2 separate regions of the Homo sapiens genome follow, and region 1 is linked to region 2. The links come from fine-mapping of genetic effects on gene expression. Tissue or cell type: minor salivary gland. Region 2 holds a variant in brackets; the other region holds the start of a gene. All regions are shown on one strand. Distances are between the middles of the regions.

Region 1 (8,105 bases), 360 kb before region 2:
CAACCTGAAGGAAACTGAATATAAAATAAGTCTTTATCCTAGCTTCATACAGAAGGGAAAAGTGATTATGAGCAGGGCTTTGGGATCAGCCAGATTTAGATTCACATTTCAGGCTTGACCTCCTCCCTTTATTCCCCCTCTTACGGATATAATCGTGGGGGTGCCCAACAGATTGAGGTGTAAATAGTGCAAAAAATCAGGACGGGCGCGGTGGCTCACACCTGTAATCCCAGCACTTTGCGAGGCCGAGGTGGGCGGATCACGAGGTCAGGAGATCGAGACCATCCTGGCTAACACGGTGAAACCCCGTCTCTACTAAAAATACAAAAAATTAGCTGGGCGTGGTGGCGGATGCCTGTAATCCCAGCTACTTGGGAGGCTGGGGCAGAGAACTGCTTGAACCCAGGAGGCGGAGGTTGCAGTGAGCCAAGACCGTGCCACTGCACTCCAGCCTGGCGACAGAGTGAGACTCTGTCTCAAAAAAAAAAAAAAAAATTTTTTTTTTTTTTTAGTAGAGATGAGGTCCCACTGTGTTGCCCAGGCTGTTCTCAAACTCCTGGCCTCAAGTGATCCTGCCTCGGCCTCCCAAAGTGCTGGGGTTGCAGGTGTGAGCCACTGTGCATGGCCCCAATAATGGTTATATTATTAAACAACTAATAAGAATACTTATTGGACACTTGTTATGTCTGGAGCACAGTGCTCAGCACAGTACATTTAAGTCACTTCATCCTTATAAGAGGTCAGCAAAAAAAACCACGTGCGTGACAAGGGCAGATTTTAAAAAAAAAAGGTATCTGAATTACCCTCAAGGAGGGAATAAAATTCTTGGGGGATTAAAAATTTGAAAACTGACCAGGTGCCCTGGCTCACACCTATAATCCCAGCACTTTGGGAGGCCAAGGCAGGCAAATCATTTGAGGTCAGGAGTTCGAGACCAGCCTGGCCAACAGTGAAACCCCGTCTCTACTAAAAATACAAAAATTAGCCCTGCAAGGTGGTGGGCACCTGTAATCCCAGCCACTAGGGAGGCTGAGGCATGAGAATCGCTGGAACCTGGGAAGTGGAGGTTGCGGTGAATCGATATTGTGCCACTGCACTCCAGCCTGGGTGACAGAGTGAGAATCTGTCTCAAAAACACAAAACAAAACAAAACAAAAACAACAAGAAAGGAAAACTTTAGATATCTGTATGTAGGAAAGAGACAGACTGGTGATGCAGGCAAGGACTGGGCTCCTCATGAGTCTTTCTCCTGTTATTTTTTATCCTGTGTCCCTCTCACCTTCATGTACTTGTTGAAGACAGTCTGGATCTCCTCGTTGATGCTGGGCTGCAGGACAGCTCGGAGGAGATCCATGGAGATGGCAGGATCTGTGAAACTGCATTCAGGAGGGAGACAGGGTGAGGGGGCATGTCCCAAACATATTCTTTCCCAGCCTCCCCAGTTAATTATGGACATAGAATTCCTTAACAATACTAGACAGCTTTTATTGAAAACTAGCTACATGCTCAGATTTTGTGCAAATCACAGAGGCATGACTTTATTTCTTTCTCATAATAACTCTATGAAGTGCATATTATTTTCAAAGTTTTTTTTTTTGAGACGGAGTCTCACTCTGTTGCCCAGGCTGGAGTGCAGTGGCGTGGTTTTGGCTCACTGCAACCTCTGCCTCCTGGGTTCAAGCAATTCTCCTGCCTCAGCCTCCTTAGTAGCTGGGATTACAGGTGTGCACCACCACGCCCGGCTAATTTTTGTATTTTTAGTAGAGACCGGGTTTCTCCATTTTGGTCAGGCTGGTCTCGAACTCCCAACCTCAGGTGATCTGCCCGCCTCAGACTCCCAAAGTGCTGGGATTACAGGCGTGAGCCACCGCGCCCGGCCAATTTTTTGTTATTTTTAGTAGAGACGGGGTTTCTCCATGTTGGTCAGGCTGTTCTGGAAGTCCCGACCTCAGGTGATCCACCCACCTCAGCCTCCCAAAGTGCTGGGATTACAGGCGTGAGCCACCGCGCCCGGCCCAAAGTGTTTTTATGAAATATAATACTTATACAGAAAAGTCTATACACTTTAATGAGTAATTATAGTGAACATCCATTTCACCACTATCAGCATCCCAAAGGCCCACCTTGTGCTCTCTCCCTTCCCTGACATGCATACTATTAATCCCTCTTTATAGTTGAGAAAACGGGCTCATCAGAGTCTGTTGATGAGAACACAGTTGTCTGACTCCAGAGCCTGTTCTCTTAAACTCCATGCTAACTGACCTCTTTAGAGCCCTCAACCACAGAGCCAGTGAATGTGAGGGATCTTAGGTATTGTTTATTCCACAACCCATCTCCTGTGCCCTTCCCCATTTTGTACGTGAGTTCAGAGAAGGAAGTGACTTGACTAGTTCAAGATCACACAGAGTTACAGAATCGGAGTCTCCTCTTCCTCAGTCCTGTGCTCTTTCTACCGGCTGTAGATCTCCATAGCCTTGTGCACTGGGGATCCCAAATCTGCCATGCAAGCCAGTGGCTGGGATATAAGCCCCATGCAGGGCCAGCCTTACCTTGTTGTCATCTGTGAGCGGCGGCCCCTCCGCTGCACCTGCCGGTGCTTTATCATTATGTTCCAAGGGTTCTGTGGGGACCAACGGAACAAATGTCACTGCGGCCTGTGACACTGGGGTGGGGTGGAGGTGGAGGGTGGGTATGAAGTTAAACCTGGACATCCCTGCTTCTCAGATCCGTCACCATCTCTCCCGCCTTGGGGTGGGACGATAGTTGTAAGGCCTCCTCCACAAAAGAGGAACTGAGGAAGTTTCCTGCCTTAAAAGTCCCGACCCTGCCTTCTGGCACGGCAGGAGGAAGGGAAGCAGTATTTACCGAGGGTCAACTCTGTGTCAGGTGATGTCCGGGGCGTTGTACCCGCCTTTATCTTCCCATCCCACAACAAGTTTTATGAGACAGGTACTAATCATTTCCATTTTATAGAAGAGGATCCTGGGACTCAGGGGGTTGACAGAGATGGCCCACGTCACCTAGCTAGGAGGGCGGCACCAGAATTTAAATCCAGGTCGTCGGGCTGCGAAAACGCCAACCCCCTCTGCAGCTCCAGCCTCCGCGTTCTCTCGCCCGCGGGCCAGGGTCCCAGGAGCCCCGAGGCCGTGCCCGGCCTGAGCCCAGACCTCACCGGGGGCGCCCTCACCGTAAGAACCAGCTGCCCCGCTGCGCCCGCATCCCCCAGCTCCAAGCCGCCCCTCTCGGCCCCGCTAGGTCCCCGCGGCTGCTCGGCGTCGCCAGTGGCTCCCATGGCGCCCCCGGCCCCCACAACTCCGCTGGACTCTGTCACCGGCCGGAAAGTGGCGCCGTGACGTCACTGGAGCGCGCTGCTCGTCCGCCCGGAAGCGCGACGCTGGAGCTGCGGGGTTACCATGGGAACCGAACCGCCGCGCCTCGCCCAGGACAGTTACACTTAGAGGCCTTGTAGGTGGAGGTCGTTGGGGCTTCCTCTCGGGAGGGCTGCGCCTCGATTGTGCAGTGTGGGTGTTCAGTGGCGGTTCAGTCAAGGGATGTTTCCCGCTGGGCCAAGGCCTGGGGATGACTGCGGGGTAGGAGGAAGGGACCAGTTTTCTGTAGGCTGGGGTTGGGGAGCAGAGGGAAGCGTTTGGTACAGCGGCGCCTGCAGTTCAGTTTTTGAAAACTAGATTTTAATATGCTCGGCCAGGGGCGGTGGCTCACGCCTGTAATCCCAGCACTTTGGGAGGCCGAGGCGGGAGGATCACTTGCCATCAGGAGTTCGAGACCAGCCTGGCCAACATGGCGAAACCCCGTCTCTACTAAAAATATAAAAATTAGCCGGGCGTGGTGGTGGGCACCTGTAATCCCAGCTACTCGGGAGGCTGAGGCAGGAGAGTCTCTTGAACCCAGGAGGCGGAGGTTGCAGTGAGCCGAGATCACGCCACTGCACTCCAGCCTGGGCGACAGAGGGAGACTGTCTCAAAAAAAAAAAAAAAAAAAGCACATTAGGCACATGTTAGGTCATCATCAAATGTTAATTATGCCGAGATCGCGCCACTGCATTCCAGCCTGGGGGACAGAGGGAGACTCTGTCTCAAAAAAAAAAAAAAAAAAAAAAAAAAAAGCATATTAGGCACATATGAGGTCATCATCAAATGTTAATTATCTCCATGAGCCAACATCAGCCTTCTAACCATAAGGGCGACTTCCTGGCTCCAAACTTTTTGATCCTATTAAGGAGGTTTTACCTTGTACCTGCCCATAGGACTAAGCAGTGCCAGTGGACACCATTAGGTATCACAGCTAACCAAAGGCATGACCAGGACAGATAAAGAAAAAAAGAAATGGAGAAAAAAGAAATAAAGGAGGTATATGTGGGCAGACTATTTGAGTCATACATAGCAACTTCTCTTGGGTTCTGCCAGCTAGACTTCATACAGTCCAAGAATGGCCTGTGTGGGTTAGAGGGACAAAGATGTAGGTGTTTGGTGCTTTTCATTAGTTCTTAACAAACTCAACTACTGCTTTTCTGTAGGTTTTTGATAGTTTCTTTTCTCTCTTTTTTTTTTTTTTGAGACAGAGTCTCACTCTGTTACCCAAGCTGGAGTGCAGTGGCATGATCTCCACTCACTGCAACCTCTGCCTCCTGGGTTCAAGCTATTCTCCTGCCTCAGCCTCCCACGTAGCTGGGATTACAGGCATGCACCAGCATGCCCAGCTGATTTTTGTATTTTTAGTAGAGACAGGGTTTCGCCATGTTGGCCAGGCTGGTCTCAAACTCCTGACCTCAGGTGATCTGCCCGCCTTGGCCTATTTGATAGTTTCTGAGTGGTCTGTTCCATTCTGTATTTTCTTGGTTGCTAGGATGAACAGGAGCCACAATTTTATTATGCTTGGTTATGTTATTAGCTTTGGCCATTAAGTAGTGTCGTGAATCCCTCCCTCTGTTATTTGGGCTAAAGCCATGTCCTTCCAATGCCCTTTAGGGCTCTCTTTGATTCTTTTTCCAATGGCCACCCCTCCATTTTTCCAGCCACCCACTAGGTTTCTCATCATCCAGGAATATTGTGTATATTGCTTACAGAATTTGATCCTCCCATCACAGGTCCCCTTTGGTAGTGCCAGGAATTTTCCCACACTCCAGCAGCCAATCCCTCTTCTTCTTGTCAGGAGAAGATATTCTTGGGGAGTATTGTGAAAGGGAAGGTTTTGGGACTGGGTTTGGGGCCATCCCTAGTCCTGCTCATACCTCAGCTGATACTCTGGGCAAGGTGTACACCTCTAGCCTGAACTGAGCTCTTGTCCCAACTCTCAGCATCATCATGATGTTAAGCTGCCTCTTTCTTCTGAAGGCACTTCTTGCTCTTGGGTCTCTGGAATCCTGGATAACTGCAGGAGAACATGGTGAGCTATCATTTGGGATCCCTGGCCAACAGTAACAGAAAGTGACTAGAGGAGAGGAGAACTCATCCCCTGCCTTCTCCCAGAGCAAGGTTGCTTGTAAGTGGAGATGATCATCTCTATAGGACAGGACTGGATGAATAGATTCTCAGGATGGCCTGGGTCATTCTTCCTGGCTTTCTTTACCCTCTCTGGACAAGGAGATAGGACTTCCAGTTGGGCTTACTAGAGGTTCTAGCTTTTCCCTAGAACTCATTAAATGAGAACAGGATCATCCCACCCTTTCTCTCTCGTTATCTGCAGGATGGCTGCTCCTTTAGCAGTGGTGGATATATGTTAGTATTTGTGTATGAGGAGGGGAAGGTGGTTGCAGAATTTTTTTTTTTTTTTTGAGATGGAGTCTCACTCTGTCACCCAGGCTGGAGTGCAGTGGCGTGATCTCAGCTCACTGCAAACTCCACCTCCCAGGTTCACGCCATTCTCCTGCCTCAGCCTCCCGAGTAGCTGGGACTACAGGTGCCCGCCGCCACGCCCAGCTAATTTTTTGTATTTTTAGTAGAGATGGGGTTTCACTGTGTTAGCCAGGATGATCTCGATCTCCTGACCTCATGATCCGCCCGCCTCGGCCTCCCAAAGTGCTGGGATTACAGGCATGAGCTATCGTGCCCAGCCAGAATTTTTTTTTTTTTTTAAGAGACAGGGTCTCATTCTGTCACCCAGGCTAGAGTGCAGTGGTGCAGAAATATTTTGGATAGAGATGCCTGGAGGGGCTGAAGGTCCATTCCCCATTTCTGAGGCCTGGCTAGTTACCCCAAACTCAAATAGTATCTTTTGCAGCAAAAGAGGGAGAATGCCCTCCCCATAAGAACCCATGCAAAGAGCTGTGCCAGGGTGATGAATTGTGTCCGGCTGAACAGAAGTGCTGCACCACAGGCTGTGGTCGGATCTGCCGAGACATTCCTAAGGGTATGTTGGCATGAGGGGCAAAATCTGGGCATACTCTCTGACATTGCCTCTGGGATAGATGGAAGTAGAGAGCTTCCCACCTTCTAGGTTGCCTCTGGAAGTCTCCCTTGCCTAGAGTACTTCTTCTTTACTCTTTTAGGGTCCCTCCTCCTTTAATTATTCAGTGCCCCCAGTTGTTTGCCTTCCATCAGGAAAGAGCGCACCATTGATTATCTATGTCTTTTACTTTGGACTCAAAGTTCCTGTGAAGGCTGGAGGGAAGAGTTGTAAAGGGAAGGCTGTGTAAGATAATGATTAAGAGAGTAGACCCTAGAGCCAAGCAGACCTTTTTAAGCCTTAAGCCTTAGCTCTTTATAAATCTTAAGCTTTTAGCCTCAGTTTCCTCATCTATAAAATGGGGATAATTGTGAGGATCAAATAAGATGTTCATGGCACAAGGTAAACGTCAGTAAATGTTACAGTAAATATTTGCTATTACTATTGTTGTTATTATTGTCTCTTTGTCTTAGCACCAGGGTTGAGAGGCTTAAATAAATCTCAGGACTTCCTTTTTCTGTTTTTCCCTTCTGCTGTGCCCGTGGGTGTTGCCAGGCACTATTTTCTCTCTCTCTCTCTCTTTTTTTTTTGAGACGGAGTTTCGCTCTTGTTGCTCAGACTAGAATGCAGTGGCGTGATCTCGGCTCACCGCAACCTCTGCCTCCCGGGTTCAAGTGATTCTCCTGCCTCAGCCTCCCAAGTAGCTGGGATTTACAGGCATGTGCCACCACCCCCGACTAATTTTGTATTTTTAGTAGAGATGGGGTTTCTCCATGTTGGCCAGGCTGTTCTCGAACTCCCTACCTCAGGTGATCCACCCGCCTTGGCCTCCCAAAGTGCTGGGATTACAGGTGTGAGCCATGGCGCTCGGCCTATTTTCTCTTTTCTTTGCTGTCTCCCTTTTTGCTACAGGGAGGAAAAGAGATTGCCCTAGGGTTATTCGGAAACAATCCTGTTTGAAAAGGTGCATCACTGATGAGACATGTCCAGGTGTAAAGAAATGCTGCACGCTTGGCTGCAACAAGAGCTGTGTAGTCCCAATCTCTAAACAGAAGCTGGGTAAGAAACGCTGTCCCCACACCTCATGGTCTGTTTGGTCTGCTTGTTTATTTCTCAAATATGCACATATCAGCTTGTTGGTTTTACTTTGCTGCTATATTCTAAGACCTTAAAAAAAAAAGATATACAAAGGGTGCACAAGCCATAATCATTTGTGGTATGTAGCCTGGGCAGGCAGAGGGAGGGTGCCAGAAGGGCAGCCTCAACTTACCCTCATTTGCAGACTGCTTTGAAAACGGTTGAGTAGCCAGGTGTGGTGGCTCATGCCTGGAATCCCAGCACTTTGGGAGGCCAAGGCGGGCGGATCACGAGGTCAGGAGATCGAGACCATCCTGGCTAACACGGCGAAACTCCGTCTCTACTAAAAATACAAAAAAAGTAGCCGGGCGTGGTGGCGGGTGCCTGTAGTCCCAGCTACTTAGGAGGCTGAAGCAGGAGAATGGCGTGAACCCAGAAGGCGGAGCTTGCAGTGGGCCGAGATTATGCCACTGCACTCCAGCCTGGGTGACAGAGCGAGACTCTGTCTCAAAAAAAAAAAAAAAAAAAAAAAAAAGAAAAAAGAAAACCACTGGGTAATTCCCAGTTCCCATAATCAGTTGCAATATTCTCTGTTAAAAAATCTTATCCTGAGAATCTGCAGAGAC
Region 2 (8,105 bases):
AAAGGAAAAAAAGAAGAAAATTAAAAAGGAAAGGACGCTGGAGAAAAGAAACAGACACAGATAACTGAATTCAGCAGAAAATCTGATAAAAGGAAAAATTTATAGGAGGGCTTTCAGCTTAAAAAACAAAAACTTTAATAAAATAAGACATTAGGCTGGGTTCAGTGGTTCAGTGTTCACACCTGTAATCCCAGTGCTTTGGGAGGCCAAGGTGGGAGGATTGCTTGAGGCTAGGTGTTGAAGACCACCCTGGACAACATAACAAGATTTCATTTCTAAAAATAAATAAATAAATAAATAAATATTTTAAAATAAATAAAAATTTAAAAGACCCTTAAAAATGAGTGTTAAAGAAATAAATTGAAGATCTAGGTAACACCACTAAAAAAACTGCAAATAAATTGAAAATCTCAAGGAAGAAACAAGTCAGAGCTACAAATCAAATTACTAGCATAGAATAAAAGTTGGGGATAGTAAGTACCAATAGCCTGGGCCAGGTGCGGTGGCTCACACCTATAATGTCAGCACTTTGGTTGGCTGAGGTGGGTAAATCACTTGAGGTCAGGAGTTTGAGACCAGCCTGGTTAACGTGGTGAAACCCCGCCTCTACTAAAAATACAAAAATTAGCCAGGCATGGTGGTGCGTGCCTGTCATCCCAGCTACTCGGGAGGCTGAGGTGAGAGAATCACTTGAACCCAGGAGGCAGAGGTTGCAGTGAGCCAAGATTGCACCACTGCACTCCAGCCTGGGCGACAGAGACTCCATCTTAAATAAATAAATAAATAAATAAATCTCAATAGCCTAGAAAGAGGAAAAAAAAAGTCAAATTATTTTTTAAAATATTACCCCATAAAATTGTCCTTCAGGTATTAAGAAAATATGCAAAAATTCAGGGAAAACAATATCCATAAACTCTTCATTTTTGTAGAATTATTTTTGTTAATCAATCTAACAAAATGTTGATGAGGTTATCCTGAAGTTACTGATAGTTGCTTTATATGGTAGAGCATCAATGTCCAATATGGTAGCCACTGACCACATGCAACTATTGAGCACATGAGTTATGGCTAATATTAGTTGTTATATGCTATAAATGTTTAAAGTACACATCAGATTTCAAAGACTTAATATAAAGAAAAGTAAAATATTGCATTAGTTTTTATTTCATATTAATTATATATTGAAATGATATATATACTGTACTCAAATAAACTATCATCAAATTAATTTTACCTGTTTTTCCTTTCTTTTTTTTTTTTTTTTGAGACAGGGTCTCCTTCCCTGTCACCCAGGCTGGAGTGCAGTGGCACAATCTCAGCCCACTATTAGCCTCAACTTCCCGAGCTCAGGTGATCCTGCCCACCTCAGCCTCCCAAAGTGCTGGGATTACAGGCTGAGCCACTGTGCCTGGCCCCTCTTTTTACTTTTTAAAAAAGCTACTAGGAAATTGAAAATTCGATTTGTGGCTTGTATTATATTTCTGTTGCACAGCACCATAGTAGACTTTGGGGAGAGATTTCGCTTGTTTGTACTATTTAGTTTAGTTTGATCTTTTAAATAAGTATGGTTATTCATATAAAACAATACACTCATTATTCCTAAATTGAATAAATAAACCAATGGACAAAGAGCTATGCTTTCTCCCCTGGGATGTTGAGACAACTAGCTGGGAGGCTCTGGATGGGAACCAATAACAAAAGAATGGAGAACAGCTGTTCATTGTCCAGCCCACTCCCTTTACAGATAGGAAAACTGAGACCCCAAAGGTCACTTACCACTCTAAAATCTCATGGACTCAAGTGTGCAGTAGATGAGGCTGAAGACTGGCATTTCAGCTGAGGCAGGAATACTGACTTAGGGGACATTCTCAGTAGCTCCCAGGAGCCCCTCCAAGGTGTGTAGCACCACCTCCAGACAAGGAGTCCACTTCATCCCGGCTCATACCTCTTGCCCAGAGTGCTTCCTCTTCCAAGAAATCAAAAACAAGATATTTCCTTTGTCCTGTGGAAACAGGGACTCTTCTTTTTCTGCAGGTATAAGTTCCAGCCTCCCAGCCCTGGCTCATGGAGCTCAGCCCTTGGCACCATGGAGCTCAGCAGCTTCTGTGCCCTGCCTTGCCATCTGCCTGGTGGGCATGACCAGCTCAGAAAAGACCTCAAGTGAGCTGAAGTGCTATTGGGAAAGAGGACCCTGAGACCCATAGCCTATGGGACAGGGCTGGCTCCAACAGGCTACCCGGTCACTTTCACCTCAGCGGGAGTCCAAGGCCCAGATATTGAAAGGGCTCACCTGTGGTCACCCTTCAGTCTGGGGGAAGACCTGGGGCCAGACCTCCCAGATGCCTATTTGATTTAATTAAGTCTTCATCAAATTATTATTTTATTATTATTATTATTCAAGATGGAGTCTCACTCTGTCGCCCAGGCTGGAGTGCAGTGGCCTGATCTCGGCTCACTGCAACCTCCACTTCCTGGGTTCAAGTGATTCTCCTGCCTCAGCCTCCCGAGTAGCTGGGACTATAGGCACCCGCCACCACGCCTGGCTAATTTTTGTATTTTTAGTAGAAGCGGGGTTTCACCATGTTGGCTAGGCTGGTCTCGAACTCCTGACCTCAAATGATCCACCCACCTCGGCTTCCCAAAGTGCTGGGAGTGGTGTGAGCCACGACGCCCGGCCCAAATTTTTACTTTTATTATAAACTCAACATATACTTTTGTTTTAAAAAGACAAACAATACATAAATTGTTATAAAGTTAAAAGTGAGTTCTCTGTTTTACACAATCTTATTCTGAAAAGTATCCATTGTTAGAATGCTTAGGAGAGACAGTAAGTTTTCATACTACTTTAAAAATAAGACCAAGTTCTTAAGCTTGGCTACACATTGGTGTCACTTGGAGACTCTGTGAGTCCCACATTAAATTCTGATTTAACTGGTTTGGGTAAAGCCTGGGCATCAGGATTTTTTCAGTTCCCCAGGTGAATGTAGCGTGCTAGGATAGCAATTTGAAATAGGGTATGGCCAGGGAAAACCTCACTGATAATAGTGGAGGTGGTGAAAAGGGGTGGGATTCTGGATTTATTTTGAAGGTAGGGTGCAAACAGGATGAGAGAGAGACAAGGATGACTCAAAGGTATTTGGCCTGAGTGCCTGGAAAGACACGAATTACCTTTTACAGAGATGAGGTGACTATGGTTGGGC[C/A]TGTTTGGGGTGGGGTGGAGCACATCAGAAGCTCGGTTTTGGAGATATTCAATTTGAGATGTCTTTAGACATCCAAATGGAGAAAGCAAGTAGGCAGTTGGGTAAATGAATCCAAGATCCAGGGAGGAGGTCTGATCTAGAAATATGTGGGTGTTGCCAGAGCGTAGGTTACATGTGGCATGGTAGTGGAGGTCGTTTCTAGGTACTGACAGGGCTGCGGGTATAAAAGAGAGCCAGGCCACAGCTCTGTGCTCTTCTGACTTGGCAGACACCCCATGCTATGCATGCTCCATCCCACACTAGGCACACTACACAGACCACTTAGCTTTGTGTATCCACTCACCTGCGTTCCTGTCTCATTTACAGTCTGCTCCTTTACTGCTTTTGAAGTAAACTCAAGTAAAAGCACCTTGAACAAATTGCCTTTGCCCATGGTCTAGACTAGCTCACCGCCTTTCCTTCCTACATATGCACACATACCACCCGCATGTGCTGAGGGCTCCTAAAACCCTTCAAGGAACCTACACAGCCCATCTATGCTGGCTACAGAGACACCTGTACCACTGTGTTAAGACTGCTGCACTCACACATGTGGAGCTTCCAGAGTGCCCCTTGCCCATCCCTATCTTGGATCCCAGATCTCAAGCCAGAATAGCCCATACCCAGTTAATACATTTAGCGTTTGCTGATTGAGCACTTACATGTCCTGAGATGGGTCAGGTCTTAATGAAAGACAGAACCTGTGCCTCCAGGAAGCACACCATCTGGTGGAAGTCAAAGGACAGCAGCCAGCTGATAAGGAACACGTGTTAAGTCCAAGGCAATCTGGAAGCAAAGGCGTGGGGCACGGACACGTCAAGGGAAACTTCCCGGAGGCAGCAACTTCTCATCTGGGGTGTGTGTGTGTGTGTGTGTGTTTGAGACAGAGTCTCACTCTGTCACCAGGCTGGAGTACAGTGGCGCAATCTTGGCTCACTGCAACCTCTGCCTCCCAGGTTCAAGCGATTCTCCTGCCTCAGCCTACCGAGTAGCTGGGACTACAGGCGCGCGCCACTATGCCCAGCTAATTTTTTTTTGTATTTTTAGTAGAGACGGGGTTTCACCATGTTGGCCAGGATGGTCTCGATCTCTTGACCTTGTGATCTGCCCACCTTGGCTTCCCAAAGTGCTGGGATTACAGGCATGAGACACCGTGCCCGGCCAGCCTCATCTGGTTTTATGAGGGAACCAGGCAGTTGAGAGGTGTGCATGGTTGGTGGAATAGGGCATTCTAGGCCAAACCACTATGATGGGAGAACTGAGTGGGGTAGGAGGTGGGGGGAACTGCAAATAACACACAGTTGATGCCAAGTGTGCCAGAGGAAAAGACAGAAGATGAGGGCAGTGGGAGGCAACCGCCTAAAGGCTTGTTTTACAGAAATCCAGGGTTATGTAACCAGCAAGGGAGGTGGGCGGGGCGGGCTTCAATCCAATGAGCCTGGCTTCAAAGCCTGGGGGTGGTCTGAGGACAGAGCACAGCAGGAGCTCCTGAGAAGCCTGCTAAAAAGTCAAAGTCTGGGCCACACCCAGACCAACTGAATTAGTAGGATCTGGACCCCAGGAACATACATTATTTTCACAAGTGCCCCCAGTGACTCTGATGCACACTACAGTTAGAGACCCACCACCCAGAGCCCTCCCACCTCTCCACTCTACCCTTGCTGATGTGGACTGACTCTCAATGCCCCCAAGAAGTAGGATGATTCATTTCCATGGCCATGGATTATGCTTTCAGAAACACTCCCAAACAACCCGGGGAGTTCTGGGAATCACAATCAGATGGGGATGGGGAGGACAGGGGGAGCAGATCAGGAGAAGAAATTTCCGGCCAGGTGGGAGGAGGTAGGGTTTTTTGTTTTTTGTGGAGGGGGTTGCAGGCATAGGGTAGGAGGTCCTGTTCAGGCACTCAGCAAACAATCCCCAGTCCCCAGCTCTTCCCAGGACTCAAGGACAAGAGGCAAAGAACCACGGAAACAGCCGTTTTTATTCCACAAACAGTAAACTCCATCCACTACACAGTGACATACACTGTGTAGCACACCCCATCACCTTGGCCAGTGCTGCCAGCCGACCTTTCTGTGGTGATGGAAATCTTTTTCTGTGCTGTCCAATACAGCAGCCACCGACCACTTTTGCTTATTGAGCACCTCAATATAGAGGTGGCCACTACAGGTGAGGAAATGAATTTCTAAGTTAATTCAAATTCAAATGCCACATTTGGCTCGTGGCTCCTGTACTGGACAACACAGCTGTAGGCCCTGACCTGGTCCAGGGCACTTTGGTTCAAAAGCCAACTCTGAGGAGAGCAAGTGGCAGAAACAGCCCTTGGGCTCCCCTCCCCAGAGAGAAACGGCAGCTGCAGCTGCTGGAAAGGGCAAGAATCAGAGTGGGGGGACACCTCGGGCGCGCCGGATAAGGTTGGCCAGCCGCTTGGCCAGGCCACCTGTGCGGGGCTCCTCGATGTGGAAGGTTCGGGTGAGGAGATTGTAGAAGGAGCCATAGCACACGGCCACCACAGTGCACGTGAGGCAGATCACGTTGTAGGGCATGCTGAAGTCCGGTGTCGGCAGGTTCACCAGCAGCGGCTCCGTGTAGAGCCGCACAAAGTAGTTAGAGCCATCAGAGACTGGGAACCTGGGGTCAGGGGAAGAGCGGTGAGACAGGACTGGCTGCTCCTCCCCATCTCACCCCATCCTCATTCCGGCAGTATTGGGCAATGCAACACAGTGTTTCCAATGTTCTCTTAGGCTCAAAACCTTTCAACAGAAGGCATAGCTCAATCTCTAAACCTGATAAAGGGGAGCGGCGGGCGGGGGGCAAGGGGAGGGAGAGCATTAGGACAAATACCTAATGCATGCGGGGCTTAAAACCTAGATGATGGGTTGATGGGTACGGCAAACCACCGTGGCACATATATACCTATGTAACAAACCTGTATGTTCTGCACATGTATCCCAGAACTTAAAGTAAAATAAAAAATAAATAAGAAAGAAAGAAAGAGAAAGAAAGAAAGAAAGAAAGAAAGAAAGAAAGAAAGAAAGAAAGAAAGAAAGAAAGAAAGAAAGAGAAAGAAAGAAAGAGAGAGAAAGGAAAGAAAGAGAGACGCCTGGTGTTGAGGTGGAGGAAAGGGGCCCCGCCTTTGCTTGGTTGCTTCTTTCTTAGCCTGGTTTCAGCCTAAATGCCACCTCCTAAATGAAGCCTTCCTAGATAACCCAGTAAATCAATTCCTACCCAACCTCTAACCCCATTACTCTCTAGACCAGAATCTTCCTTCTAGACTGTAAGCAAAGGGAGGCCAGGGCCAAGTCTGTTTTGTTTAATCTTGCACACTCAGTGCTCTCAGAAGCACTTGGCATTTGATAAGTGCTTGATTAAATATTTAAGAGCATCAAGAAGTAAATGTAGGCTGTAAGTAAAAGTATTCTTCTAGAAGCACTTTAAAATCATTTTATAAAGTCTTCACAAATTCCACAGACTGCCAGGATTTTTATTAGGATTGAATTAAATCTACACATCTCTTTGGAAGATGTAACATCTACCCTGAACTCCCCTGCAGGAGCCTGGTCACCTGTGTTAAGGCCCAGCAGGCAGCTGAGGATGTGTTATCAGTGAGTGTGGTCACACTTACAGGCTGTTGAAGAGGGGACTCTCTTCCCAGTCCACTGGCTTGGCTGCTACCATGCTGGGCACAAGGGCGCTGAGGACAGATGGGCTACAGAGAAGCAGAGAGATGGCCCGTGTTCCCATCTGGCTGCCCTATCAAGGGGTAAGCAGCAGAAAGGGTAGGTCAGGGGGATGAGAGGTGGCCTGTGGGGGTGGAGCCCACCTGACATAGAAGCCATGGTTAGGATCTGGCGTGTACTCGGTCCACTTCAGCAGCGCCCGCTCAAACTGGATGGAAACCTTGGTGACTGAGTTGGCCGGCAGCTGAATCAGCATCTCCAGGAGGTGGGGTTGCAGCCGGTCCTGGGCAGGCTGGTAGTGGATGTAACCTGGAGACATGCAAGGTCACCCACATCTCTTTCCTGGGGTCAGGCTACCTGCTGCCCCTGTCCCTGCTGCTTGCCATGGAGCCTCAATCTGGGTGCCTAGAAGATGGGCTTGGGAGCATAGAAGCCAGGCAGGCAAGGGAAGAAAGCAGGGGCTAAGAAAAGGGAGAGGATGTTTCCAGGGCAGTGATCCCAGGATGCGATCAAGAGAGGTTGTTAGGAGTGCTGCAGATGGCTAATCAATCTTCACATCACTACAACTGGGGCACCAGACACCAAGTGCCTGATGTGACGCAAGAAGAAGTTCACAGAACCACCTGGGAATTTTTCTTGCCAAAAATGTGGGACATGAATCTAATCAGGTTTCTAAATCTAACCACCAACACACAAGAAATATAGGAGAGGAGGGGTGTGTTAAACACTAGCACAAGGACAAACCCAGAATGTGGAACATTCTACACAACAAATGACCCAGTTTCTTCAACAAATAAATGACATTAAAAAAAAAAAAAAAAGGCATGGGCACTGCTACAGATGAAGAGAGACTGAAGAGTACCACACCAAAGACAAGACATTTATAATAAGGGACATTCTGGGTGTGGAGACAGGGAGTATATGGGAACTCTGTGCTTTGTGCTCAGTTTTTCTGTAAACCTAAAACTGCTCTAAGAATAGTCTAGTAATTTTAAAGAAAAAGAAACTTTTTTTTTTTTCGTGACAGGGTCTCACACTGTCGCCCATGCTGAAGTGCAATAGTATGATCATGGCTCACTATAGCCTTGACCTCCTGGGTTCAAGTGATCCTCCCACCTCAGCCTCTTGAGTAGCTGGGACTACAGGCGTGCAACACCACCCCCAGCTAATTAAAAACAATTTA

The links. PIP is the estimated chance that this variant, and not a neighbour inherited with it, causes the effect.
Region 1: it holds the start of WFDC3, and the variant in region 2 is fine-mapped to the expression of WFDC3 in minor salivary gland (GTEx, PIP above 0.99).

What each region holds. Positions count from the first base shown.
Region 1 is chr20:45,787,192-45,795,296 of GRCh38, reverse strand. It overlaps WFDC3 (WAP four-disulfide core domain 3), which reads left to right and starts at 3,414. Exons shown (of 7, transcript NM_080614.2): 1 at 3,414-3,465; 2 at 5,315-5,403; 3 at 6,238-6,366; 4 at 7,315-7,461. The coding sequence starts at 5,322. It overlaps DNTTIP1 (deoxynucleotidyltransferase terminal interacting protein 1), which reads right to left and starts at 3,343. Exons shown (of 13, transcript NM_052951.3): 1 at 3,188-3,343; 2 at 2,550-2,620; 3 at 1,280-1,376. The coding sequence starts at 3,292. RefSeq lists silencers at 2,641-2,780, 2,991-3,260.
Region 2 is chr20:45,423,342-45,431,446 of GRCh38, reverse strand. PIGT (phosphatidylinositol glycan anchor biosynthesis class T) reads right to left here. Exons shown (of 12, transcript NM_015937.6): 10 at 7,066-7,231; 11 at 6,868-6,951; 12 at 5,206-5,873. The coding sequence ends at 5,621. It overlaps MIR6812 (microRNA 6812), which reads right to left and starts at 5,937; the gene lies at 5,874-5,937. LOC105372631 (a long non-coding RNA gene) reads right to left here and starts at 4,025. Exons shown (of 4, transcript NR_159957.1): 1 at 3,902-4,025; 2 at 1,777-2,002. The variant C/A (reference allele first, on the strand shown) is at 3,201.